2 linked regions of the Homo sapiens genome follow. The protein of the gene in region 2 purifies or fractionates together with the protein of the main gene of each other region. This does not show direct contact. Each region holds a gene or a part of one and is shown on either strand. Other genes may lie near its edges. The genes, in order: ENOSF1 and LTA4H.

Region 1 (4,122 bases), on a different chromosome or scaffold from region 2:
CTCCCACCTCAGCCTCCTGAGTGGCTGGGACCACAGGTGCATGCAACTACGCCCAGCTAATTTTTGTATTTTTTTGTTGAGACGAGGTCTCACTATGTTGCTCAGGCTGGTCTCGAACTCCTGGGCTCAAGCGATCCACCTGCCTTGGCCTTCCAAAGTGCTGGGATTATAGGCTTGAACCACCACGCTCAGCCAAACCAGGCTGTCTTAACATTTCACAAATTCAAAGTCAAGTCTAGATTAGGGATTCCTTCTGCTTCAGTTTCCTCAGAGTGAATAGTAATTACAGCCACCCCTCCTTTTTTCTTTAGAAACAGGGTCTCACTGTGTCATCCAGTGCCCAGGCTGGAATGCAGTGGCATGATCATAGCTCATGTAATTGAATTCCTGGGCTCAAGTGATCCCCCTGCCTAGGCCTCCACTTAGGATTAGAGGTGTGAGCCCTCATGCCTGGCCTATAGCCAACTTTACTGACGGCCTTCTCTGAGCCAGGCTCTTTACAGGTATCTCATTTACATGTATAAAGTGAATATTATTATACCCATTTTACAGATGAGAAACCTAGGCTTAGAAAGATTGTGTGACTTAGCCACAGCTGCTAAAGCTTCACAGAGGCAAAGGCAGTTGCATGAGATCGAGTGTTTGGATTCTATAAGCCAGTAAAATTTCCAACATTTATTTTGAGTTCCATAAAGGATTGCCTGCTGGGTGTTTAAGTTATTTACCAACATCATGTAAGAAAGGAAACATGAAGATTTTAAAGAGGATGACAGCCTGGGCCCTGTCTCTACAAAAAATACAGAAAGTAGCTGGGCATCATGGTGCACACCTGTAGTCCCAGCTACTTGGGAGGCTGAGGTGGGAGGATTGGTTGAGTCAGGGAGGTCAAGGCTGCTGTGAGCCATGATAGTACCACTGCACTCCAGCTTGGGCAACAGATAAGAGACCCTGCCTCAAAATAAATAAATAAATAAATTTAAAACATAAAATAGAATAAAATAAAAATTTAAAAATGCAGGATGAACTTAATCTCAAAAAGGACATTGTTTTGCATTTAATAACTTTAACGAGAGATCTATTTTTATAAAACATTTCAGGTACAAAAAGAGTATAGATAATGTAATGGACACCAGCTTGCCATCCACCCAATTTAGGAAGTAAAACATTACAATGGGAATTAGAGACCTCGTGGTCCCCTCCGTGACCCCATTTCCTTCCCTCCCTACTGGTAACCATTTTCCTAACATTGCCGTTCCTCACTTCCCAGCATACTTTCACACATTCACTACATACCCATACAACTCTGCTTTTCTAGCGCGGCCAATCTCATCAGTGGACTACGAGGGGCAGTGAGGACCCAGTGGGGAACAGGCTCCCTGAAAACCCTGCACAGAACCCACTGTATTTGGGAAACACCGCTCTAGACGGGGGCAGGGGAGGGAAGGCCTGACATTCTAACACCCTCAGTAAGCAAAAAAGACCTTCAATATTTAGGTAGGAGTCAGAGTTCCTGCCCTTACTTTATTACATCTCTTAAGACGAACTGACATTTGCATCAGTCCTTTCTAAGCGTGTTTGCGGGTAATTTCACGAGAGCGCCCTCTCATGTGACGCAGTTAGCACGCGCTTGGTTTCTCAACCCGACTGTGACACCTTCATTACACAGACGGGTCCAAGAGACCCAGAGAGGTCTGGAACTTCTCCAAGTCACACAGCAAGTTGTGGAAGCGGGATCACCACTCAAAACTCCCAGCCCCGGGCTTCCCGTTCTCCCTCAGCGCCAACCCCGTCGCGTTCAGGGTACAGAGGAAGCCAGCGAGCGCTGTGCTCTAGGGTTTCCACTGGCGGGAACCCAACAAAATCATTTTGCTGCTATTGCCTATTATGCATTCTACCATTTCCAGCAAAATGTGAGTCGTAAAAGTAAAACCAGGATATTCTAAACTCCAGCAAAGAAAAAACCCAGGAGAGTGGAAAGTTTCTGGATACTTATACAATTGCTCCAAGGCATGAAAAGCGAGTGTCTCCCCCAGGCGCGCCTCCCACTTTACAGAAGCAATGGGTTCGAAGTCGGGAAGCTGCCCGGGGCCCGCAGAGCTGCAGTCGGCGGGGCGGGAGGGACCCGGGCCGCAAGCCGCGCGTACCATGGCGTCCGCGCTTACCATGGCGTCCGCGCTTACCATGGCGTCCGCGCTTACCATGGCGTCCGCGCTTACCATGGCGTCCGCGCTTACCATGGCGTCCGCGCTTACCATGGCGTCCGCGCTTACCATGGCGTCCGCGCTTACCATGGCGTCCGCGCCGTGGCCCCCAAGCGACGTGGGGAAGCGCACGTCCCGGACCGAGAGCCGGGAGATCCTGCCGCGCACCATGGCCCCTGCGCCCCGTGGCCGCGGCCCCCGTGCGGTCAGGACTGGTCGGGATCCCGAGCGCGCGGCGGGAGGGCGGGAGGGCGGGAGCGCGGCAGCGCCGCGAGGCGGGGCACCGTCAGGGCATAGAGGGCGCTCATTGGCCGCGCGGCCGCACCCCGTGAACTTGGCCCCATGGGAGCTGCAGTCCCAGCTCCGGGCTCCCGGGGGCGCACTCCGCCTTCCGCCGTTCCCTTCTCAGCCTAGACGGAGCTGACCCCGAGAGGGTTCGCTCAGGGTCGCCGGGGAACCTGGGCAGGCAGGAGGCCTCGCGCCCGGTCGGCGCCTCCGCGGGACCCTGCTCTGCTCGGATGGAAGACTCGTGAAGGGACCTGCCCGGGAGCCGCGCCCTAGAGGGAGAAGTCGGGTCTGAGCGAGTGCATTCGCTCAGCGGCAGATTCCGGCCAGTGGCTCAGCTCCCAAGCCGAGGCCGCTGGTTGTCGCCAGCGTACCCAGGAGAGCGGTGCCCTAGAAAATGCTAGGTCTCTTTCAGTGCCCACAGCCTCAGTTTGCCACCTGATAAATTAAGAGGCAGGTCATCATTGATTACACCCGTACTGATGCAGATGAGGTCCCCGTACCGTGCCTCAGCCTGTAATCCCAGCACTTCGGGAGGCCGAGGCGGGCGGATCACCTGAGGTCAGGCGTTTGAAATCAGCCTGGCCAATACGGCGAAATCCCGCCTCTACTAAAAACAAAAATTAGCAGGGCGTGGTGGTGCGCGCCCGTAGTCCCGGCTACTCGGGAGGCTGAGGCAGAACTGCCTGAACCCGGGAGGTGGAGCTTGCAGTGAACTGAGATCGCGCCACTGCACTGCAGCCCGGGCGACAGAGCAAGACTCCGACTCAAAAAAAAAAAAAAAAAAAAAAAGATGCTGGGCGGCTCACGCCTGTAATCCCAGCAGTTTGGGAGGCCAAGGCGGGCAGATGGCGAGTCAGGAGATCGAGACCATCCTGGCTAACACGGTGAAACCCCGTCTCTACTAAAAATACAAAAAATTAGCCGGGCGTGGTGGCGGGCGCCTGCAGTCCCAGCTACTCGGGAGGCTGAGGCAGGAGAATCGCTTCAACCCAGGAGGCGGAGGTTGCAGTGAGCCGAGATCGCACCACTGCACTCCAGCCTGGGCGACAGAGTGAGACTGTGTCTCAAAAATAAATAAATAAAAAGAAATAAAAAGAAAATCCAAAGTAAGCAGAAGAGAAGAAATAATAAAAATTAAAGCAGAAACCTGTGAAATTGAAAACAGGAAAGCAACAAAGAAAAATCAATGAAAACAAAAGCTGGTTCTTTGAAAACATTGATAAAATCAATAAGCCTCTAACCAGGCAAGAAAAGAGAACGCAAATAACTAATATCAAAAGTGAAATAAGGAACATTACTACAGATCCGACGGACATTAAAATGATAATAAAGGAATACTATGAATTCTATGTCCACAAATTTGATAACCTGGATGAAATAAACCAATTCCTTGAAAGACACAATCTGCCAAAACTCACACGAGAAGAAATGGACAATCTGAATAGGCCTATATCTATTAAATAACTTGAATAAATAATAGCCTTCCAAAAACAAAAAGCACCAGGTCCATGGTTTCACTGGTGAATTTTACACCAAACATTTAAGGAAGAAATTACAACAATTCTCTATAATCTATTTCAGAAGATAGAAACAGCCACAAACTGACTTTATGGTGAATGATTGATGCTTTCTC
Region 2 (3,500 bases):
GTGGTGTAACTTTAGGGGAATCTAAAACTTGGAGACTGGAACACTAGGATATGTTGGCATAAACTTCTGGAAGTCTATTAATAGAATGCTTACTTAAGTAATATTCTCTGTTGTTTCTTGCTCAATAATACAGGCTTTATTCTTATAAAAAGACTAGAAAAATGATTTAATGCCTGGTCAGCAAATTTGGCTTTCAGGAGACAACACTTAAAAATGACATACCAAATAAGATGCAAACATAGTAAACAGCTATATTAATAGCAAAGACCCAGTGAGGTCCCACAGCTCCCTATTTAGACCAGGTCATCAAAACTACCTTACATAGAACAGTGAACAGTGTGGATCAACACAGTGTTATACCAGCATTGACTTCACTTTCCACACTTGTAAAAATGACTTTTTGGTTGCTACACAGTAAAGACGCTTTTATAAAAACTCAGTTTTTAACACCTATACAACTTTGGATGAAGGTTTTTAAAACTTTGACTCCTTTACCGAATTCTGTAGTTCTCCCCATCCTCCCAGAGCATTAAAATGTCTGAACTTTTCACCAAACAATCGTCCGCAAATGTGGCGTTCCAAGTACACAGTATGTCCCTCATTTAACCTGAAAAAAAAATATTTTAATAAAAACACGGACACAGCTGAGAAGAAAAGACATTTCAATCAAGATATTTTCTTTTTGGCTTTTCTACAGAGGAAAGCAGTTGTAAGGCATGACCACTACAGTCTAAGCCGACTCTGGCTCCCAGGCAGTCAATCCAGAGCAATGGGAAGCCCAGCCCAGCAGATGGCAGCAGGGAAAGTTAAGCCCTGCTTCTGCTCTTGCATGTCCCTATGTTAAAAGTGGGAGTATATCAGGAATTAAACTTAACACCTAGACTGAACCTAACACTCCTAACGCTGTAATAAGTGTTACAGAATTTTTAAGAACTATCCTTGTTGGCCGGGCATGGTGGCCCACGCCTGTAATCCTAGCACTTTGGGAGGCCGAGGCGGGAGAATTATCTGAGGTCAGGAGTTCAAGACCAGCCTGGCCAACATGGTGAAACCCCGTCTCTACTAAAAATACAAAAATGAGCTGAGCATGGTGGCGTGCACCTGTAGTCCCAGATACTCGGGAGGCTAAGGCACAAGAATTGCTTGAACTGAGAGGCAGAGAGATCACACTACTGCACACCAGCCTGGGCGACAGAGTGAGACTCCATCTCAAAAAAAAAAAAAAAAAAAAAATCCTTGTTGGCTGGGCGTGGCGGCTTATGCCTATAATCTCAGCACTTTGGGAGGCCGAGGTGGGCGGATCACTTGAGCTCAGGAGTTTGAGACCAGTCTGGGCGACATGGTGAAATCCCATCTCTATAAAAAATACAAAAATTAGCCAGGCATAGTGGCATGCGCCTTTAGTCTCAGCCACTTTGGAGGCTGAGGAGGGAGGATTGCAACCCTGGAGTTGCAGTTAGCAGAGATTGCACCACTGCACTACAGCCTGGGCCACAGAGTGAGACCTTGTCTCCAATTAAAAAAAAAAAATAGCTGGGCATGGTGGCTCACACCTGTAATCCTAGCACTTTGGGAGGCCAAGGTGGGTGGATTGCCTGAGCTCAGGAGTTCGAGACCAGCCTGGGCAACACGGTGAAACCCCATCTCTACTAAAATACAAAAAATTAGCTGGGCGTGGTGGCGCATGCCTGTAATCCCAGCTACTCGGGAGGCTGAGACAGAAGAATCACTTGAACCTGGGAGGCAGAGCTTGCAGTGAGCTAGATCGCACCACTGCACTCTAGCCTGAGTGACAGAGTGAGACTCCATGTCAAAAAAAAAAAAAATCCTTGCCTACCTAAGAGATGATAACAAAGAAAAACAAGAGATACACACAAAACAATTCAGAGTGGTAGGAGGCAGGGAAAAAAAAATCAGCAACATGAACCAATAAAGAAATAATAACAAAAATCTTACCAAAAGTGATCCCAAGTTTTGTTGGTCACTAGATTCCCTGTCCAGCTATGAGATATTTCATGTGCAATGACCTAAAGAAAACAGTGTGATTAATAGTAAGACTGATTATCTTAACCTAAAATAACCCATTCTACTGTAAACACTCCATGTTATTCAATTTTTAAAAAATATTAGCTGAGATATTCAGGGAGTTACTCAGTTCAGCAAAATCTTTAATTTAACCAAAGACATACACACACACACAAATATGGCATAAAGTAATTAGAAAACAAAAATTACTTAGAAAATATTAAATAGATATATCACTGCATTAAAAATATTTCATAAATATATGAAGAGATCAAACCATAAAATTTCCTTAAATCTATTACATCTAATTGTTAATAATGTGAGAAGAGTCCCCAAATTGTCCATTATAACCATATCTTTAACATAAAAATACAAGGGATATTTTAAAATCAGTTGACGTAATACTTCTTGAAGGTAAGGCCATAATGAAAAAGTTTAACTTACATTGGAGAGTGACTTGTCGCCTGCCTACAAAAAAAGAAAATTACCTTAGTATTTTAGTAATCGAATTACAGACTATCTAAAAGACTGCCTACCTAAATACTTAGCATACTGGCACTGGTGATCCACTGTATTTCTACTACAGCACTTCAAAGAAGGTAAAAGAGACCTTAATTGAAAAAACAAAAAAAATACAGAACTAAAAATTAGCATCATTCTTTCTTGCCCTAATTCTAGGGAATTTTTGCAATACAATGAAAGCCAGTCTATTTGTGTCTAACTTCCATGAAACATTTCTTCTACTTCCATTTTTATATCTGCTCTTATTTACCCATCACTTTCTTTCTCTCCTATTACCCAAAATATATTTAATAAAACTTTAGAGTGTCCTATGTGTCCTGTGCTGTATTTTATTTATTTTATTGCTAATCCATCACTCATTTTGGTTCTAAGAAGAATTTAAAGTAGCTCACAGGCATATTAAACATAGCAGCGTTCTATGGCCCTAATCCTTTCCTGTACATGGTGTACTGATTTTTTTTTTAATTGTACCTACACACCAAGTGTAATTGGTATAGTCTGATTGTCTGGATACATAATTTATCAATGAATTGTTGTTACACAGCACCCCCATGCCCAACTCCCCAAATACCGTGAACATAATATTCTCCTTCTCCAAATGGCCTGATTATTTTCCTTTCAAAAACAAGATGGAGGCCTGGTGGGGTGGTTCATGCCTGTAATCCCAGCACTTTGGGAGGCCAAGGCAGGTGGATCACGAGGTCAGAGGATCGAGACTACCCTGGCCAATATAGTGAAACCCCATCTCTACTAAAATTACAAAAATTAGCTGGGCATGGTGGTGTGCACCTATAGTCCCAGCTACTCAAGAGGCTGAGGCAGGAGAATCGCTTGAACCCGGGGGCAGAGGTTGCAGTGAGCTGAGATTGTGCCACTGCACTCCAACCTGGGCAACAGAGCAAGCCTGTGTCTCAAAAAACAACAAAAAAAAAATGAGATTGTGATAACCACAA

Evidence for each region.
Region 1: the proteins of LTA4H (region 2) and ENOSF1 fractionate together in Homo sapiens (co-fractionation; one large-scale study listed by BioGRID). This does not show direct contact.

What each region holds. Positions count from the first base shown.
Region 1 is NC_000018.10:710,216-714,337, forward strand, and holds the start of ENOSF1 (mitochondrial enolase superfamily member 1), read right to left. Parts: upstream 2,416-4,122; 5' UTR 2,373-2,415; coding exon 2,289-2,372; coding exon of another isoform or gene 2,145-2,288; intron 1-2,144. UniProt on the Homo sapiens protein: Plays a role in the catabolism of L-fucose, a sugar that is part of the carbohydrates that are attached to cellular glycoproteins.
Region 2 is NC_000012.12:96,015,088-96,018,587, forward strand, and holds part of LTA4H (leukotriene A-4 hydrolase), read right to left. Parts: intron 2,494-3,500; coding exon 2,470-2,493; intron 2,028-2,469; coding exon 1,957-2,027; intron 608-1,956; coding exon 496-607; intron 1-495. UniProt on the Homo sapiens protein: Bifunctional zinc metalloenzyme that comprises both epoxide hydrolase (EH) and aminopeptidase activities. Acts as an epoxide hydrolase to catalyze the conversion of LTA4 to the pro-inflammatory mediator leukotriene B4 (LTB4).